Regions from separate parts of the Homo sapiens genome. Here region 1 is linked to region 2. The links come from fine-mapping of genetic effects on gene expression. A gene starts in region 2. The other region holds a variant in brackets. All regions are shown on one strand. Distances are between the middles of the regions.

Region 1 (10,805 bases), 82 kb before region 2:
ATCTAGAGGTGGAAGTAAAGTCAAGAGAGTTTTTTTCTTCTATTCAAGATGGAAGAAATATAGGGCAGGCATGGTGGCTCAAGTCTGTAATCCCAGCACTTTGGGAGGCTGAGGCTGGTGGATCACTTGTGGCCAGAAGTTCGAGACCAGCCTGGCCAACACAGTGAAACCCCATCCCTACCAAAAAATACAAAAATTTGCCTGGTGTGGTGGCAGGCACCAACTACTTGGGAGGCTGAGGCAGGAGAATCACTTGAACCCAGGAGGCGGAGGTTGCAGTGTCATGCCGCTACATTCCAGCCTGCGTGACAGAGTAAGAGTCTGTCTCAAAAAAAAAAAAAAAAAAAGACAGAAGAAATAACTATGTTTGTATGCTGGTGAGAATGCCCCAGTAGAGAGGAAAAAAACTGATGATGGAGGAAGGAGGGGAGAAAATTGTAATGATATACCCAAGCAGGTATATTAGTTTTCTAGGGCCACCATAACAGATTGCCACAAATTTGGTGGCTTAAAACAACAAAAACTTACTCTCTCAGAATTCTAGAAGCCAGAAATCTGAACTCAAGATGTTAGCAGAGATGTACTCCCTCTGTAGGCTCTAGGGGAAAATTTTTTCCTTGCCTCTTCTGGCTTCTGGCAGCTGCTGGCATTCCTTGGCTTGTGGATGCATCTCTCTCTTTTCTGCCTTCACATTGGCTTCTCCTCTGTGTGCGTTCTACTCTTCTGTCTGTTTTAAATCTCCTTCTGCTTTTCTCTTACTAGGACACTGTCATTGGATTTAGGGCCTCCCCAGGTAACCTAGGATGATCTCATCTCAAGATCATTAACTTAATGACAGGTGTGGTGGCTCACACCCGTAATCTCAGAACTTTGGGAAGCTAAGGTGGGCGGGTCACCTGAGGTCAGCAGTTTGAGACCAGCCTGGCCAACATGGTGAAACCCCATCTCTACTACTAAAAATACAAAAATTAGCCAGATGTTGGTGGCAGGCGCCTGTAATTCCAGCTACTCTGGAGACTGAGGCAGGAGAATCGCTTGAACCTGGGAGGCAGAGGTTGCAGTGGGCCGAGATCGTGCCACTGTATTCCAGCCTGGGTGACAGAGTGAGACTTCATTCCCCCCGCAAAAAAAAAAATTTAATGACATCTGCAAATCCCCTTTTCCCAAATAAGGTCACATTCATAGGTTCTGGATATTAGGACCTGAAATACATTTTGGGGGACCACCATTCACCCTAATGCAGTAGGTGAGAAGGAATGGGGTCTACTTCACACGGGAGGAGTCGGCTTTTGATGGGAGCAGGGATAATTCATCACTAATTTCAGTAGGGTGAATAGATGATTTGGTCCCAGTCACAACTAGGTGGGTAGACATAGTGGTGGGAGCTTGTAGAAGTTTTTTTGGGCTGGGCATGGTGGCTCACGCCTGTAATCCCAGCACTTTGGGAGTCCAAGCAGGGTGGATCACCTGAGGTCGGGAGTTCGAGACCAGTGTGACTAACATGGAGAAACCTTGTCTCTACTAAAAATACAAAAAAAATTATCCAGGCGTGGTGGCACATGCTTGTAATCCCAGCTACTCGGGAGGCTGAGGCAGGAAAATCGCTTGAACCTGGGAGGTGGAGATTGCGGTGAGCCGAGATCGCGCCATTGCACTCCAGCCTGGGCAACAAGAGCAAAACTCCGTCAAACAAACAAACAAAAAACAAGTTCGTTTGATTCCTTCCATTTCCTCAGTGAGATAAGAAACAAAGTCACCATCTGACAGTGAAGATGGGGAGGGAGTTGCTAGAACTTGGATATGAAAAGAAAAAATGTGTTGTAGTTTTCATGAAGAGTGGGAGAATGACTGGATTAGAGAGTTATTAATTGTTCAGCAGCAGTAAAGCTCACCTGAGATTCATGGTCATAATTTTTTTTTTTTTTTCTGAGACAGAGTCTCACTCTGTTGCCCAGGCTGGAGTGCAGTGGTGCAATCTCAGCTCACTGCAACCTCCATCTCCTGGGTTCAAGTGATTCTCCTGCCTCAGCCTCCCGAGTAGCTGGGACTACAGGCATGTGCCACCACACCCAGCTAATTTTTGTATTTTTAGTAGAGAGGGGGTTTCACCATGTTGATGAGGCTGGTTTTGAACTCCTGACCTAAAGTGATCCACCTGCCTCGGCCTCCCAAAGTGCTGGGATTACAGGTGTGAGCCACTGCACCTGGCCTAAAACAGGTAGATTTTATTTGCAATCCAGATTTCTGACTTCTTTTGAAAATCTAGGAGATAAGACAACATTGGGTTTGCATTTAGACATCGGAACAATTGTTAGAGCTCAGAGGTGGCTACCCAATAAAGACAGAGAAAGCCAGGTGTGGTGGCTCATGCCTGTAATCCCAGCACTTTGGGAGGCCGAGATGGGTGGATCACAAGGTCAGGAGATCAAGACCATCCTGGCTAACACGGTGAAACCCCATCTACACTAAAAATACAAAAAATTAGCCTGTAGTCCCAGCTACTAGGGAGGCTGAGGCAGGAGAATGGCGTGAACCTGGGAGGTGGAGCTTGCAGTTTGCCAAGATCGCGCCACTGCACTCCAGCTTGGGCGACAGAGCAAGACTCTGTCTCAAAAAAAAAAAAAAAAAAAGTGTGGTGGAGCAGATGGCTAAAGAGATGGATGGGGGCCAGTGAAGAATACTGTTCCCTGAGTGAAAGTTTGGGCTATACCCCTAGGTCACTAGGGCGTTGTTGAAGAGTTTACAGCACAAGAATGATAGCATCTGGTTTGTCTGAGGAAAGTAGATGGATTCAAGGCAAAAGACCAGATGCTGTAAAGAAGTTATTGTTATTAATTCATGGTTTTTCTTATGTCTAAAAAATCCATGCACAATAAGTCTGGTTTATAAACACAAGTCTTCATGTCTTTTTTTTTTTTTTTTTTGAGACAGGGTCTGGCGCTGTCACCCAGCCTGGAGTGTAGTGGCGCAATCTCGGCTCACTGCAACCTCTGCCTCCCAGGCTCAAGCTGTCTTTCCACCTCAGCTTCCTGAGTAGCTGGGACTAAAGGTGCATGTCACCATGCCCAACTAATTTTTTTGTATTTTTTAGTAGAGACGGGGTTTTTCCATGTTGCCCAGGCTGGTCTCGAACTCCTGAGCTCAAGCAATCCACCTGCCACAGCCTCCCAAAGTGGTGGGATTACAGGCTTGAGCCACCATGCCCAGCCCCTCATGTCTTAATCCTAGAATTCTTTTCCCGTGCCATTCCTCTCCTCTTCATTCTTCCCATTACCCAAGACTGAGGTTGACTCTCTTTTACTTCGCAGAGACAAAAGCAAAGTGTTTAATCAGTCATATGGGGCTAGCAGCCTGACTTTTTCAATAGTTTATGACTGTATACGTTAATTCACTTATCCAAGGGTCAGTTTCCTTATCTATAAACTGCAGATAATAGCTGTCTCATAGAGTTGCTGTCAGAATGAAGGAACTGATGTTACTAAAGCACTTAGCACATGGCTGGGTGCAGTGGCTCACACCTGTAATCCTAGCACTTTGGAGGCCAAGGCAAGAGTATCACCTGAGGTCAAGAGCTCGAGACCAGCCTGGCAAACATGGCAAAACTCCATTTCTACTAAAAATACAAAAATTAGCTGGGCATGGTGGCGCACACACGCCTGTAGTCCCAGCTACTCAGGAGGCTGAGGCAAGAGGATTGCTTGAACCCTGGAGGCCGAGGTTGCAGTAAGCTGAGATCTTGCCACTGCACTCTGGCCTGGGTGATAGAATAAGACTCTGTCTCAAAAATAAATAAATAAATAAAATAAAAATTAAAAAAATAAAGCACTTAGTGCAGTGCTACTTAGCACAGTGCTTGGTGCAAACTGTGCTCAATAAATGTGAGATTAAAATCTGGCATAAAATATTCTATGATGGCTGGGCACGGTGGCTCCTAGCTATAATCCCAGCACTTTGGGAGGCAAAGGTAGAGGATCACGAGGCCAGAAGTTCAAAACCAGCCTGTGCAACATAGTGAGACATGTGCCCCCTAATCTCTACCCCCCCTCAAAAAAAATTAACTGGGCTTGGTGGCATGCACCTGTAGTCTCAGCTACCTGGGAGGATGAGGCAGTAAGATCGCTTGAGCCCAGGAGTTTGAGGCTGCAGTGAGTGATCATAGCACCACTGTACTCCAGCCTGGGTGCCAGAGCAAGACACCATCTCTAAGAAAAAAAAAAGGGGGGTGGCAGCGCAGTGAGCGAGACACCGTCTCTAAGAAAAAAAAAAGGGGGAGCCGAATGTTGTGGCTCATGCCTGTAATCCCAGCACTTTGGGAGGCTGAGGTGGGCGGATCACTTGAGGCCAGGAGTTCGAGACCAGCCTGGCCAACATGGTGAGACCCCCATCGCTACTAAAAATACAAAAATTAGCCGGGCACGGTGGCATGTGCCTGTAATCCAAGCTACTCGGGAGGCTGAGGCAGGAGAATTGCTTGAACCCGGGAGGTGGAGGTTGCAGTGAACTGAGATCGTACCACTGCACTCTAGCCTGGGCAATAGAGCAAGACCCTGTCTCAAAAAAAAAAAAAAAAAAAAGAGATTTCAGGATAATGTGCATGTGGATGAAACATAATTGGACTCTGCTCTCCTTCTGAAATGGTGACAGGTTCAAGCTCTTTTCTTAGAGTATGTATGTGTTTGGGGTGATTATAGATGAATACCCCACAATCATGTGGGGTGCTCTCAGTTCAATTCAAGCTGATACTTTGTTTGTTGTAATTGTTCCATTTCCTACACATGTAATAATAGAAAACATTTTTCCCCTTTCCCTCACACACTAATTGTAAGATTGTCTGAGAGTTTTTTTTTTTTTCTTTTAGACAGGGTCTTGCTCTGTCGCCCAGGCTGGAATGTAGTGGTGCAATCATGGCTCACTGAAGCCTCTACTTCCCATGCTCAAGCAATCCTCCCACCTCAGCCTCCTGAGTAGCTGGGACCACAGGCATGCACCACCACACCTAGCCAATTAAAAAAAATTGTAGAGACAAGGTCACCCTATGTTGCCCAGGCTAGAAATATTGATTTTGTTTGTTTTGTTTGGTTTGGTTTGGTTTTTGAGAAGGAGTCTCACTCTGTCGCCCAGGCTGGAGTGCAGTGGCACGATCTTGGCTCACTGCAAGCTCCGCCTCCCGTGTTCAC[G/A]CCATTCTCCTGCCTCAGCCTCCCGAGTAGCTGGGACTACAGGTGCCCGCCACCACGCCTGGCTAATTTTTTGTATTTTTGGTAGAGACAGGTTTCACCGTGTTAGCCAGGATGGTCTGGATCTCCTGACCTCGTGATCCGCCCGCCTCGGCCTCCCAAAGTGCTGGGATTACAGGCGTGAGCCACCGCACCCGGCCTAGAAATATTGGTTTTAATTAACCTTCAGCTATGGAACCCGATAGTCTACCAATTGCCATTTTTGAACCCATTTATGTTACAGTGGGTTTTAGCATATTCCTGAAGAATTACTGGTGGCAGTAGTGGTGGTAGAGGAGATGCTGTGGCAGCTGACCCTTCTGTGCTGGTCTTGATGTGGTCTGGTATTCACACCCTCCACAGCCAGCAGTGTGGAGGTTTTTGATTATCCACTTGAGTTCATCCTCCACACAGCGGCTAGAAGGAGGTTTTTAGAAAGTGAATGTGACCATGTCAGTCTTACCTAAAACTCTTTACTCCTTACCAGAACCATGAAGTCTCATTGCCTGGCTTTTCCCTGAAACCCCACCATGGCTCCAGCCATCGAGGGCCTTTCCCACTTCTGGGTCTGATCTTGCCCCTCCACTTTGCATGGTTGGTTCCTGTTCCTCCTTTGGGTCTCAGCTTAAGTGTTAGCGCCTTAGATCTTCCTCAACCAACTGATTTATCATAAACCCCCTTCTTATCCTACTTACAGCACCTGCATCTTTTTCTTCATAGCACTTTTCACAAACTATTTTTTTTTTGTTTGTTTTTTTGAGACAGAGTCTCACTCTGCCACCCAGGCTGAAGTGCAGTGGTGCGATCTTGGCTCAATGCAATCTCTACCTCCCGGGTTCAAATGATCCTCTCACCTCAGCCTCCCGAGTAGCTGGGATTACAGACGCACACCACCACGCCTGGCTAATTTTTGTATTTTTAGTAGAGACAGGGGTTTCACCATGTTGGTCAGGCTGATCTCAAACTCCTGACCTCAAGTGATCTGCCTGCCTTGGCCTCCCAAAGTGCTGGGATTACAGGCGTGAGCCACCATGCCTGGCCTTCACAAACTAATTAAATATGTATATGTGTATCACATTATCTGACTCCTCTCCTGGACAGAAAGGTCCATTAGGGCTAGGAATATACCCGTTTTTTTTTTCTTTTTTGACACTGGGTATCCTTCTGTCACCCAGGCTGGAATGCAGTGGCACAATCATGGCTCACTGCAGCCTAGACCTCCTGGGATCAAGCAGTCCTCCCACCTCAGGCTCCAAAGTAGCTGGGACCACAGGCACATGTCACTATCCCTGACTAGTTTTTTGATTTTTTTGTAGAGACAGGGCCTCCCTATTTTGCCCAGGCTGAGGAATGCATCTGTTTTACCCACTACTCTATCACCCTAGCCTAGTCCAACAGACACAGGCTGGGCATGGCGGTGCACTCCTGTAATCCCAGCGCTTTGGGAATCTCAGGTGGGAGAATTGCTTGAGCTCAGGAGTTGGAGACCAGCCTGAGCAACACAGCAAGACCTCGTCTCTAAAAAAAATAAAAACAAAAACCAAAAAAAATAGACACACACGCAAAACTGTCAATATATGACTTATGGATCTACTTTTTACAGTATTTCATTCATTCTTTTTTTTTTTTTTGAGATGGAGTCTCGCTCTGTCGCCCAGGCTGGAGTGCAGTGGTGCGATCTTGACTCATTGCAACCTCCGTCTCCCTGGTTCAAGAGCTTTTCCTGCCTTGGCCTCCCGAGTAGCTGGAACTACAGGCATGTGCCACCACTCCCAGCTAATTTGTTTTGTATTTTTAGTAGAGACGGGGTTTCACCATGTTAACCAGGTCGGTCTGGAACTCCGGACCTTAGGTGATCTGCCCGACTCGGACTCCCACAGTGCTAGGATTACAGGTGTGAGCCACCTCGTCCCGCCCTTTTTTTTTTTTCTTTTTGTTTTTCTTTTTTTTCTGAGACAGAGTCTCGTTCTGTCGCCCAGGCTGGAGTGCAACTGCATGATCTCTGCTCACTGCAACCTCTGCCTCCTGGGTTCAAATGATTCTCCTGCCTCAGCCTCCCAAGTAGCTGGGATTACAGACATGCACCACCATGCCAGCTAATTTTGTATTTTTAGTAGAAACGGGGTTTCACCCTGTTGGCCAGGCTGGTCTTCAACAGAAGTTGAAGTGATCCTCCTCAAGTGATCTGCCTGCCTTGGCCTCCCAAAATGCTGGGATTACAGGCATGAGCCACCGCACCCAGACATTCTTTCTGTATCTATTGACGGGGCATCTATGAGTCAGGCACTGTTGTTGGTGCTGGGACTGCAGCAATGAATAAAGCTGGTGTCAGGCATCTTTTATATATGTCCCATGTTGTATCTTAGTTAGCTTTTTTTGCTCAGCATCTACTTTTTTTTTTTTTTTTGAGACAAGAGTTTTGCTCTGTTGCTCAGGCTGCAGTGCCATCGTTCAGTTATAGTTCACTGCAGTCTTGAGTTCAGGGGTTCATGCAATCCTCCTGCTTCAGCCTCTTGAGTAACTGGAACTACAGGCATATACCTTCATACTTCCATAGCCAATTTTTAAATTTTTCTTTTGTAGAGATGGGGTCTTGCTATGTTGCTTAGGCTGGCCTTGAACTCTGAGGCTCAAGTGATCCACCCACCTTGGCCTCCCAAAATGCTGAGATTACAGGTGTGAGCCACCACTCCTGAACTCAGCATCAAGTTGGCCAATGGGAGATAGGAACTGGTGGCTAAATATTTCCTCCTCTGTCTTACATTCTGCGCAGTTCCTCAGGGGGCCTCAGTGGGACTAAGCTCCAGTTGTTTACAGAAATTTTATATCCTTCAATAGGCTTTCTTTCTTTCCTGTTTCATTCTTTCTGGTCCCAATTTCTTTTTCTACCCATATCCTACGGGATCATTTTCCAGAAGAAAGTATCTGCCCATGAGTCCTTCTCCAATGTTGCTTTTGGGGGGAACCCCAGCTAATATAGCTAGCCTTTTAATTGCTTTTGTTGGGTCACTTTCAACATTTCCACCTTGGGTCCCTGGATGCATTCTGGGTTCCTAATGGGTAGGGATCAGATATTCTATTTTGTATTTTCCCACAGTTACTAACGAGGGCCTGGCAAATGCAAGTAAACATAGATTAATTTCGATTTGATTCAACAAAAGGAAAGAATACAGTGGCTATCTGTGGCTCAAGGGAAGCCAGTTGCCTCTGTTGCAGCTACTTCTGCCTCATGCTGGATGAAGGGAGGACTTACCAGGGCAATTACTGTTTTCCTTTCTTGTATCCATTCTGCTTCCCTCCCAGGTTCCTGTTCCACTGGCTTCCAGCAGCAGCAGGTCAGCAGCTGCTCCAAGTAGTTCATCAGCTCAGTCAGGCCCAGAACTGGGGCTGTCACTGGGGCCCCGCCTGCCATCTGCTTCCTCCAAGCTGAGAGTAGGAGAGGAAAACTGGTCCCTACTCCTCAGGGGCAGAATCCACATGCCTGTCATCTGGCACTACAGAACAAATCAGGGACTCCAAAGAATGAATGACTTCAAAATTTTCTACCAGCCTTAACTGAATCTCATAGATATAGGGAGTGACAGACAGCTGGTAAAGGTGTAAAGAAAGTAGAACATATTTGGCAGACAAGCAGTAGTTAACGGGTCTACCGCTAATTTGATGCTCCTGTGGACACACACTACTTTTCTGCCCACAGTTTCCAGAAAATGAGTAGGTTGGACTAGATGATCTCAAAGAACCCCCAGCTCTAGGATTGTTAAATTACAGAACTGGAAGGAATCTGATCGGTCAGTTATACTTCAAATAGTCTAATTTTTTTTTTTTCTTGAAAGCCTTCACTGTTGGTAACAGCACCATGTCTATTCTAGATCCACTATGAGAGCTCCAGCATATCTGCTCTGGCATGCTCCCTGATGGGCATGCCCATTTACATACAGTTTTTTTGTAATTAAAAATGATTTTTTTTGTAATTAAAAATTGCATTGAGATAATGGTAGATTCACATTCATTTCTAAGAAATAATATATTTGGGCCAGGTGCGGTGGCTCATGCCTGTAATCCCAGCACTTTGGGAGGCTGGGGCAGGTGGATCACCTGAGGTCAGGAGCTCGAGACCAGCCTGACCAACATGGTGAAACCCCATCCCTACTAAAAATGCAAAAATTAGCCAGGCATGGTGGTGCACGCCTGTAATCCCAGCTACTCAGGAGGCTGAGGCAGGAGAATTCCCTGAACCTGGGAGGTGGAGGTTGCAGTGAACTGAGATTGTGCCATTGCACTCCAGGCTGGGCAACAAGAGCAAAACTCCGTCTTGGGAAAAAAAAAATACACACACACACACACATATATATATTTGGCCTAGTTTCCCCCAATGACAACATTTGCAAAACCTTAATATGATATCATAACTAGGATATTGACATTGATACAATTTACCTATCTTATTCAGATTTTCCCAGTTTTACTTGTACTCATTTGTGTGTATATTAAGTTCTAGATAATTTTATCACCTGTACTACCATACTCAAGATGTTTAACAGTTCCAAATTCACAAGGATCCCTTGTGTTGCCCTTTTATATCATACCTGCTTTCTTTCCACCTTACTTCATTCCCCAACTTGATGGATTTTTCCAAATCTTTTTATTTGGAAATAAGTTCAAACTTACAGAAATGTTCAAGTACACTCTATATGCTGATTCACTGATAATATGCACCTTACCTTTATTGCCCACTTGGCTTTATCATTTTTTCCTATCAAGATTTTTTTTCCCCTGAATCATTTGAAGGTAAGCTGCATACATTATGACCTTTACCCTTTCAAGATACTTTAGTGTGTATTTCCCAAGAATTAGATATTCTTGTACATAATTACAGTGGAAGTTATCAACATCAGTACATTTAACATTGATCCAATACTTTAATCTCTTACATGGATTCTGATTTTGTCAGCTGGAATGTCCGTGATGTATTTCCCCTCCTCTAGCACAGGATGCAGTCTAGGATCAGGCATGGCATTTAGCTGCCCTGACTCTTTTGCACCCTTTAATCTGGAACATTTCCCAAGCTTTCTTTTGATTTTAATGACCTTGACATTTTTGAATAATACAGACCCTTCCTCTTTTTAATAGATGTTCCTCATTTTGGGTTTGTCCGATGTTTCACTATCATGATTCAGGTTATGCATTGTCCCCAGGAATACTGCATAGCTGATGTGGACATGATATCCATCTGCTCTCATTGGTGATGTAAATTTTGATCACCTGGTTAAGATGCTGTCTGCCTGCCTCTTTGTATAGTTACTATTTCCGCTTTTGCTACTAACAGGTCTAAACCATCTATGGGGAGACACATCAACCCAGACAAATATCTGCCAGCCAGTAACAGCCCCCTAGAGTAAGCATTCATGGATGATTCTTGCCTGAGCCAATCTTCACTATACACTTGATGATCTCTTCAAGTCAAGTCTATGCCAGTATGAGAAATCAGGTTTTGCAGGGTTTAGTTTCCTTACACCTTTGGTTCTGGTCTGAGTCTTCTTCAAGTCCTCCCAATGTCCTCTATGACCCCTGGGTTGAAAAGAAGTAGACTCA
Region 2 (10,262 bases):
ATCCTGGACCCTTGACCATCATTGGTGACTCTTGGGGGTCTTCTAGTTCATCCTGCTCAGCCCTCTGCTGTCTAGAATGTTCTGGGTTCTTCTTGAGGATTATAGGCTTTTCTAGTGAGGCAGCTTATCCATTCATCTGTATTTGAGTCACTGACTAGGCGTGACAATCCCGTTTTCTTTTTTTTTTTTTTCCTTATGCCAATCCAGTTTTATCTACATGTTGTTTTGCAGAAATTCCTAAAGGTTCCAAGCTTCTCTTGTTAACTTTCTTTTCTCACCAGGGATATACAGACTCTCCTACCCATCCTTCCCATTTTCATATTTATTTTTTCATGTTAATGAGGGCAGGAAGTTTATTGCCTGGGCTGAGTTCATTTATACAGGCTGAGTATGTCTAATGTGAAAATCTGAAATTTGAAACTTTTCGAGTGTTTACATGACACTCAAAGGAAATGCTCATTGGAGCATTTCAGATTTCAGATTTTTGGATTTTGGACATTCATTTGGTAAGTATAAGGCAAATATCCCCAAATCTGAAAAAAAATCATTTTTTTTTCTTTTGGAGGCAGAGTCTTGCTCTGTTGCCCAGGCTGGAGTGCAGTGGCATGATCTTGGCTCACTGCAAGCCCCGCCTCCCAGTTTCAAGTGATTCTCCTGCCTCAGCCTCCTGAGTGGCTGGGTTTACAGGCATGCGCCACGATGCCCAGCTACTTTTTATATTTTTTAGCAGAGATGGGGTTTCACCATGTTGTCCAGGCTGGCCTCAAACTCCTGACCTCAAGTGATCTGCCCGCCTTGGCCTCCCAAAGTGCTGGGATTACAGATGTGAGCCACTGTGCCCAGTCAAAAATCCAAAATTTGAAACTCTTCTGTTCCCAAGCATTTCAGCTAAGGGATACTCCGCCTGTAATAGGAATTCCTGGTGTATTTTGGTAAATAAACCTGTTGGGAAAAAGGTCACAGATTCAGGGCTGTAGTTTTCTTTCAGAACTGACTCTACCATGTTGGGGGAAATGTCTATTAACTTTCTCTTTTTGTGTGTATGTGTTTTTTAAACAAACGATAATGCATCATTTATTAGAGCAGTGGTTCTCACACTTTTTTTGTGGGTGTGGTCTCAGGACGCCTCAAAGTTATTGAGCCTCCTAAAGCATTTTTATTTAAATGATTCTGTTGATTCATATGTATTGTAATAGAAATTGAAACATAAGATGTAAAACCACACGGATATGAAAGTTCCATTAATTAGCTTTCAGAGCAGTGGCATCATCACACATAATGTAGTCTCTGGAAAATTCCACTGTACATCCATGAAAGAGTGAGAGCGAGAGTGTCTGACTTTGTAGACCCTCTGAACTAGTCTCAGGAAACTCCAGGGATTCTCAGACCACACTTTGAGATCTCTTGTGCTGAGGAATGTTTTGTAGGTTTCCTTTTTCATTAAGCTCCTGTTTGACGTTTTGTGTGTACACATGTGATGTGTGTGCAGGTGCGCTGGGAGTTGAGGCAGCGGCACTCCTGAAATGTGTGGGAAATCGCCTGCATGTAGGTGTGCTGTTGCCGGCGCAGAGCGGAGTGTTCAGCAGCCTATGTCACATGCCATCTTTTCTCAGAAGTTATCTTTCATCCTAGTCAGATTTTAAATGAGGGTGAGTCTGTAGTTTTCATCAGATTCTTCTTTTTCTTTCTTTTTTTTTTTTTGAGATGAGTCTCACTCTGTTGCCCAGACTGGAGCCCAGTGGCATGATCTCAGCTCACTGCAACCTCTGCCTCCCCGGTTCAAGCAATTCTCCTGCCTCAACCTCCTGAGTAACTGGGATTACAGGTGCCCGCTACCATACCTGACTAATTTTTTTTTTGTTTGTGTATTTTTAGTGGAGATGGGGTTTCACCATATTGGCCAGGCTGGTCTTGAACTCCTGACCTCAAATGAGCCGCCCACCTCGGCCTCTCAAGGTGCTGGGATTACAGGAGTGAGTCACCGTGTCCAGCCATTTTCATCAGGTTCTTAAAGGAGTCCCCTAATTTCTCACTGTAGCTTAAGGTAGGGGCATACCTTAAAGTTCTTAGAGAGTTGAGAAGTTATTGTGGTTGAAAGAGTTTAAGAGAAACATATCTTATGTAATTCCATATACAAATAAAAATGTTACCTCTCTTTGTGTGTATAAATCCTGTAGGAATACAGGTTTTAGCTGTGCTCCAGTGTGTTTCTTTGCTTAGAGCTGCTTCAAGGCAGGTTTCAGTAAGCAAATGAAGCCATGTGCTCCACATTTTGGTCAATATTGATTAGTTGAATGGAACTTTGCTGCAGTTATTTTATTGAAACTAAGCAATGTGATTGGAGATGCCTTGACTTGAGAGAAACGCGTTTCAGAATTCGCAGTCTGAACGCACGTCATCCCGGGGCCCTCATTTTCTAAAGATTGTCCAGGTTTATCGATAGACTCTAACTGTGCCCCTCTCTTTCAATTGTCCCATAGATTCCCTATAAGGAGCCCCTGCTGGTGCACCAGAACTACCGGGGGCCATCTGCCCAACTGCCCCAGACTCTGGCAGTGGGGCCCCCGATGGCAGTGGGCACCTCCCCGTGAAACCTGCCAAGCTGGACGCCACAGCTCTGCACGACGACACTTTGGCCAACTCCGTGCCCCCTTCGGAGGCATGCAACCATGCAGTCCTAGCCTGCAGCCTGGGCATCCCTGAGGAACACTACATAAGCGAGGCTGTGGAAGATGCTCCCAGCTACAGAGGGTACCGGGATGCCTGCACCATTACTGGTATGGGGGCCCTTTCCCTGCCAGGGAGGAAGGGAGGGAGGTTTCAGTCACTGAGGACTAGGGAAGGAATGCAGCCACATGGGAGGGTCTTGGGGAGGTATGTGGAGAGGAACCACCAAAGTGCAAAAGACTCTGAGCTTTCGGATTGTGAGACCTCCAATCCAGAACCTGTTCTGCCAGTGAACCATTTTGTAACTTGTGTCAGTTGTTGACCTACTATCCTGACTGAGAGGTAGACAGCATTTCACTAAATTGTCATGAAGGTTAAAGATGGTAACATCCAAACCTGAGCAGCAAGCATGGCCCATCACAGGCACTCAGTGTATTGAACCCTTCCTTCTCTCTTTGCACTCAGCTTCTTCAGATATAAGACAGGTGTAGTGGGAATAACATGCACTGTCATTGTGGGATGCAAAAACAGAAAACTACATGGAGTGCCCTTTGTACACCATCAGGATTTGCACAGACATGGATTTTTACAGATACCTGTGTCAGTCATAACTCTCAGTGTCCCAGGTGGTAATCACCTAACATCTGTGCGGGCACTTAGTAGTAGAGCTATTGCTTTTTTATTTTCCCCAAGGAAGCATTGAGACAAGTGCTTGAAGCTAGCACAAGAGAGGGCTCTCAATGGAAATGGTGTAGGATGGTGTGCATAACAGCAGCAAGTGGCAAAATTATAGCTCAATCCAGTTGCATTCATATAGAAGTTTGCTTAATTTCTCATTTTTGTCTGCAGTGTTTGCTTTTGTTTGTCTGTTTGAAGTAATGCCTGATGACAGCTTAATATATGCAAGTTGGCTTCCAGTAGCTTCTCTTGGTTCTGTGTTACCAGTTAAGCCTTGAGGACCTCCTGTGTGTCAGGGGTTTCCTGGATACAGAAAGGCACAGAGAAAGCCGGGGGTCCCAGCCTGGTGCCTAGCTGCTGTGCTAGGCCCCCACACACCTCCTCTCCCTTTTTGTTAAGTGGCCCACATGTGTTGTCCTCCGCTTGTGACTGAGTCCCTCTCCCACTTGCCTGCCCCCTGAAGGACACAGTTCCAACATCTCCCTTTTCTCTACTGCATCATTCTTTTCCCCTTGCACTTGGGTCTTTCTTATTAGTGCAGAAACATGCTATGATCTCCCTCTTCGGAAATAGAATCCTTCTCAGTCCCGTGTTTCCCGCAGGCCAGTGTCTCTGCTCTTCTGTTTGCTTACTCTAGTTTTTCTTTTGTTCTCTCTGGAGTCCACTGCAGGCAGGCTCATGCCCCACCACACTGACAGCCTGGTTCAGTCCAGGGGTCTGTCCTCTGCCTTCACCTTACTTCACTTTTCAGTGGTAGTTCACACTGTTGCCAAGTCCTGTGTCCTGGAAGTACAGTCTTTACTTGGCTTCTGGGTCCCCACACTCTCCCTGTTCTTCTGCCTCAGTGGCTGCGTTTCTTCTTCTCCCAAGCCTGGGAACGTTGAAGGGCCCGGGGCCCAGCCTTTCCGCCTCTTTGCTCTTATGTGTGCACCTGTGCAGCACTTGATCTCACCCAGCACACAGGTTTTAAAATCGCCTTCTGTACTGGCCACTCGGTGGTTTCTGTACTCAGCCTGGCCCTTCCTCCTTAAGGCCAGATGTCTCAGACTGACTCCACATGAGTTTCCACTTAGATGTCTAACAGGCATGTCAAACTCAAATGACCAAAAATGAGCTCCTGGTTTCCACCTGCACCTGCTTTTCTTAGGGTTTTCCCCATCCTTGTAAATGGTGCTTTCATTATTCTAGTTGCTCAGGCCAAGAACCTTGGAGGCATTTGTGATTCTGCCTTTCTGCGATTCATACCCCAGTTTGTCAAGAATTCTGTTGGCTGTATCTTCAGAGTATGTTCAGAATCTACCCAGCATTTACTGTGTCCCAGCCACCCCCATCTCACACCTGGATGACCGCACTGGCCTTCCAGTGGGGCCTCTTACTGCTACCCTTGCCTCCCTAAAATTCTTTCTCCGCTCAACCATGAGAGTTGGCTTTTAATACAATCAGATGGTTTAACTCTCCTCCAAACTTCCAGTGAGCTCCCCTTCTATAGAGACCTGTAAGGAAGGGGCTGAATGACAGGAATCCCTCTTTGCCCCGCTGACCTGCCTCCTCTGTGCCCTCCGTGCTCCAGGTACACTGGCCGCCTCACTTAACCTTGAACTCACCAGGCACATCCAGCCTCAGGGTCTTTGGATTGCCTTAACTCCAGATATCCTTATGACCCCCTCTTCCTTCTCCAAGTGACATTTTATTTGATGCTTTTTGTGACCCCCCCCCAATACAGAGTGATCTGCCTCACCTTTCCCCATCTCCCTTTCCTGTTTAATTTTTTCCCCCAAACTTAACCATCTGCTGAACTACTGTATTTGTGTTTTGTCTCCCAAACTTGCAGTAGACTAAAGTCGCGGAGGGCAAACTCTGTGTCTACTTTGCACACTCCTGAATCCAGTGACTAACGTAGTGCCTGCCTGTGGCCAGCGCTCAGTGAACATTTGTTGGGTGTATCAATTGTGTCAATTTGTGCAGTGAGTACTATTATCCTCTTTGTGTAAGTGAAGAGTCTAAATCTCGAAAGGTTCAGCACCTTGGTGAAACTCCTGAGTGGCAGGAGTTGCATCCAGGTCTGTAGGACCCCAGGGCAAGGGTTCTTTGCTGCCTAAGAATTTAGTCTAGTTGGGGAGACAGATGAGTGAGTAGAAATTGGCTGTACACCGAGGTTAGCACAATGATAAGCACAGCACAGTAGGGCACCAAGGAGGGTGCCAGGCTGAACCTTGGAGGGGAAAGGACAGGAGAAGACCACGAGGGCTTTGTGGAGGAGGCGATGACCCAACCGCATCTACATTTGTCCAAACACATGAATTGATCCTTGGGATTCTAGTGGCATCTGTACCAGTGAAATCCAGGAAGCATCCAGCCTGTTAAAGTGCTTTCACTTTCTTTGAATGTGACAGTGGAGGGTAAAGAAATGGCAGAATGTACCGCTGAAACTTCACAGCTGGGCGTGGTGGCTCACGCCTATGATCCCAGCACTTTGGGAGGCCGAGGCGGGCAGATCACCTGAGGTCAGGAGTTCAAGACCAGCCTGGCCAACATGGTGAAACCCCGTCTCTACTAAAAATATAAAAACTAGCCAGGCATGGTGACGGACGCCTGTAATCTCAGCTACTTGGGAGGCTGAGGCAGAATTGCTTGAACCTAGGAGATGGAGGTTGCAGTGAGCTGACACAGTGCTACTGTACTCTAGCCTTGGCGACAGAGTGAGACTCTCTCAAAAAAACAAAACGAAACAGCAACAACAAAAAACACAACAAAGAAGTGGCAGAATGTAGTGCTGAAACTTCAAACCCTATAGGATGTGGTGACTTGGGGGTTCTTTGTTGGGACCAGAGGAAAGCTGAGAAACAGCTCGGTGCTGTTGTGTTTAGCACTGGCTTGGTAAACAGGAGAGTAAACACAGACACTCTTATGCGTTTAAGGGATGGGCTGTCAGGTGATGGAGAACATGCTCGGATTAAAGTTTTATTAGGCAGTCATTGAAAGGAAGACATTAAATGGAAAAAAGTTCTCCGAGAGACCTAGACTATCCCCAAGAATGCATCTGTGGCCTCCCAGGGCTTTGCCAAGTGCAGTCTCAGGACACTGCTTGGCATTCAGCCCTTGATAAATTCACTCCTCCCCCAGTTCCCAGCAAGCCCTGAGATGAACAGCAGACTTTTTGTTCCACTTTAATTTTTAGGCAAAACCGAATGCCCATCACAAAGCCCCGTTCTCCTTGCTACTCCCCTTCCCCCAACCTAGAGGTATCACATTTTTGGGTGCGTCATTTTCTGTTTGGGGTGGCTTAACAAGATGAGCTGATAGGGTTCCCAGGCTGCCTGGAGTTACATAACCCATTGTGCTTCCAGGACAGCTCACAATCTTAGGATTTGCCCTAACAAGCAAACTCAGAAAACTGCTGAGGAAGGCACGGGAGGGTGGCTGTGCGAGGTACTGCCGGGGCTGAGCTCTCATGGAGGCTCTCTCTGTTCTCTGAAGTGCCTTTGGAGTTTATGTCTGCACATGGCATTGGTTTTTCAATTCGGGCAGCCCGTCAGGGCTCAGCCTCTGCCAGGACTCTGCCACGGCAAGCTCATTCGGACAAACGCCTGTGGTAAGTTTGTTTGCCAGGTCTGTCTGCTGTCTGTTTTCTTTGTGGTGTGGTCGGAAAGGAGAAAAGACCACAGGAGAAGCTGTCTCTCTCTTGCTCCGTGCTGCTTGGGAGGTTGTTCATGGTCATGTGGTAGAGAAATTGCCATGTTGAATGATAGGCAGAGCAAAGGGACTTCAGAGACACAACTACTGCCCTCACCACCCCCCCATCTCCCGTTCCCAGGTCCCCTTGTCCCCTTGCCCAGGCTCAGTAGGTGCAAGTGACACTTGCAGGGCATGAGCACAGGGCTGAGTTGAGCCCAGACCCCCTGCACTGCCACTCCCTTTCCCTTCACAGTTCTCTGCAGTGGGTGGACAGGGTTTCTAAGGCCTCCTCCGCCTCTCCAGCTCTGATTTCTCTAATCCTATGTCTTGTCTTTATCCTGATTTCTTAGATGCTAACCTGGTATCTTGGGTCAGCAAGGAGTTTTTCAGAAGGTGAAGGACAGAGTTAGACTGTCTCCCTCCCTCTCTCCCGTTTCCCTCTCTTCCACCCTCCCTTTCTTTTTTGTCCTTTACTAAATGCTTGGGCCTGGGACTCGGATCCACACCCCAGTGATGGAGGGCTTGCTAATCAGATCTGCTGTGGCTTGTGTCTCTTGCTGTGGGGCTGACACCTCTCACTTCCTCTAAGCTGGTCAGAGTCCAGTGGTTGATGACCCATCTGGTTTCTGTCCTGTCTACACGCTGCTTCCTGAGAGCTGTCTGGGCCAGAAAACAGTTAATTCCTGAGAGAAGTGAGCTCCTGTTCCATTCCAGTCAGTTTTAGGCTTTAAAACATGTAAATCTTATTGAATAAGCCTAAAGACACTTCAAACATGCATCTTACTGAGGCAATCGTACTTATTTTTGTGTGTTGAAGCAGCGTGCACCCAGGGCCAGGTTTTTACTGGGGTTTATGTTAATTCCTGGGGTCAGAGAGAGGACTGGTCCTGCCCTCAGAGCACAGAGGTGGGCCAGGGTGTAAAGGAGAAGCTGTAAACCGAGTGAGAATTGCCTAGGAAAAATCTGCTAACAGGAGTAGCCCTGCCTGGGAGGACTCTTCATCAAAGGGCCATGGCTTAGAATTTGTTCCTTTTATTTTGTTGTGTTGTGTTGTGTTGTGTTGTGTTGTGTTATGTTATGTTATGTTATGTTATGTTATGTTATGTTATGTTATGTTATGTTATGTTATTTCGTGACTCACTGTATTGCCCAGGCTGGTTTTGAATTCCTGGGCTCAAGTGATCCCCCTGCCTCGGCCTCCCAAAGTGCTGGGATTACAGGCGTGAGCCACCATGCCTGACCCAGGATCTTTTCCTTTTCTATCACTGATTTAAGCCATAAAACTTGATGTCTTATCCTCTGAAAACATGCTCAAATAAAACATTATGGAATTCTTACACATCTTATTAATTAAATTTAAGGCCTTGTCAATTTCTCTCTAGTATAATTTTTATTTGTGTTTTCTATTGAAAATTTATAATCTAAATGGGTCTTTTATTTGGCTATATTAATGAAACAGAAAAGAATGGACAGTGAAATATATATCCCTTTTACAACAGAGTGAGAAAATGTAAATTACAATGTAGGGAATAACACATATTTTCTAAATGTGTAATTTAGAAGTTTTTTTTTTTCTCCTTCTCTTAGTGGAATCTCCTTTATTTCACAGTTGATTTGTTTTTGCAGATGGAATGCAGAAAGGGGCCCTGTTATGCTAATTTCTAGAGAGAGCATTTGATCTTTGCAAAACCACAGAAACATTCACCTCTGCCTTTTAAATATGCTATAAATGATTTGGGGGCCACCAGCTAATCTTCCTACCCTTCAGTTCCCTTATGACTAGGTGAGTAGGTAGAATATTTATCACAAGGTTTTTGACATAAATTGTGAAATTTATTTAAAATGTCATTTGTAAGTTTTTTTCCATGTGATTTTGGGGCCATAGTTCTCAAGTATTTGATATATTTTTATCTTCTCCTAACTGGTTTTAGTTCTGCACTTGAAACAAATTTTTTTCTCTCCTGTCCTCTTTTCTCTCCCCTCTCTTCTCTCTTCTCTTTTTTCTCCCCTTCCCTTCCCTTCCCTCCCCTCCCCTCCCCTCCCCTCCCCTCCCCTCCCCTCCCCTTCCTTTTTTTTTTTACAGAGTCTCACTTCTATCACCCAGGCTGGAGTGCAGTGGCATGATCTTGGCTCACTACAACCTCCACCTCCCAGGTTCAAGCAGTTCTCATCCCTCAACCTCCTGAATAGCTGGGATTACAGGCATGCGCCACCACGCCCAGCTATTTTTTTGTATTTTTAGTAGAGACAGGGTTTTGCCATGTTGCCCAGGCTGATCCCAAACTCCTGAGCTCAGGCAGTCCGCCTGCCTAGGCCTCCCAGAGTACTAGGATTACAGGCGTGAGCCGCCGTGCCTGGCCGAAACAAGCTTTTCATGTATATAATGTATCAATCTTTGTTCACCCCAAACTATTTTTGGAAGCTGGCAAATAATAAATTATAATAGGAAAAAAAAATGGCAGTTTTTGGCAGAGTGGCCAGGTATGGGCCTCGGCACCTTCCTGCTCAGCCAAGGTCTGTTGTAGGAACGTTGACTGGGAGTGACTGAGAGGATTCAGGGTGCACCAATGCCAGGCTCAGGCTGAGCAGCTGGGTTGGTGTGTGAGTCTGGGACTCATGGCCCCAGGGGGAACTTTGGAGTCAGAAACTTCTCTGTTTTCACTGAGCCCTGATCTCTCATAAACACTGAAAAACTTGAGCAAGTCAGGCTGAAACTATCAGGAGCTGAAACTTTATTTTACTTTTAGAGTCAGAGTCTCACTCTGTCACATAGGCTGGAGTGCAGTGGTGCAGTGCAGTCATGGTGTATTGCAATCTTGAACTCCTGGGCTCAAGTGACTCTCCCACGTCCACCTCCCAAGTAGCTGCGACTATGGGCTGGAGCCACCGTGCCTGGCTATTTTTTTTTGGTAGCAGTGGGATCTTGCTGTGTTGACCAGGCTGGTCTTGAACTTCTGGCCTCAAGTGATCCTACCACCTTAGCTTTCCAAAGTGTTGGAATTATAGGTATGAGCCCCAGTGCCCGGCAAAGGTGTAACTTTATAACTAGATCTGGAAGAAATATAATGTTATAAATCCTGTTCTAGGTTTCTCTAGAGAAACAGAGCCAATAGGAGAAACATATATCGAAATGTATTACAAGGAATTGTGTTACTTGATGGTGGAGGCTGACAAGTCCAAGATGTGCAGTTGGCAAGCTGGAGGCCTGGGAGACCCAATGGTATAGTTGCAGTCCAAAGGCT

Evidence for each region. PIP is the estimated chance that this variant, and not a neighbour inherited with it, causes the effect.
Region 1: its variant is fine-mapped to the expression of TRAK1 in whole blood (TOPMed, PIP above 0.99).

What each region holds. Positions count from the first base shown.
Region 1 is chr3:42,002,182-42,012,986 of GRCh38, forward strand. It overlaps LOC107986077 (a long non-coding RNA gene), which reads right to left. Exons shown (of 2, transcript XR_001740668.2): 2 at 9,837-10,781. Among named protein-coding and RNA genes, the nearest start is that of ULK4, 45 kb to the left of the region's middle. The variant G/A (reference allele first, on the strand shown) is at 5,178.
Region 2 is chr3:42,084,624-42,094,885 of GRCh38, forward strand. TRAK1 (trafficking kinesin protein 1) reads left to right here and starts at 6,734. Exons shown (of 16, transcript NM_001042646.3): 1 at 6,734-6,937. The coding sequence starts at 6,847.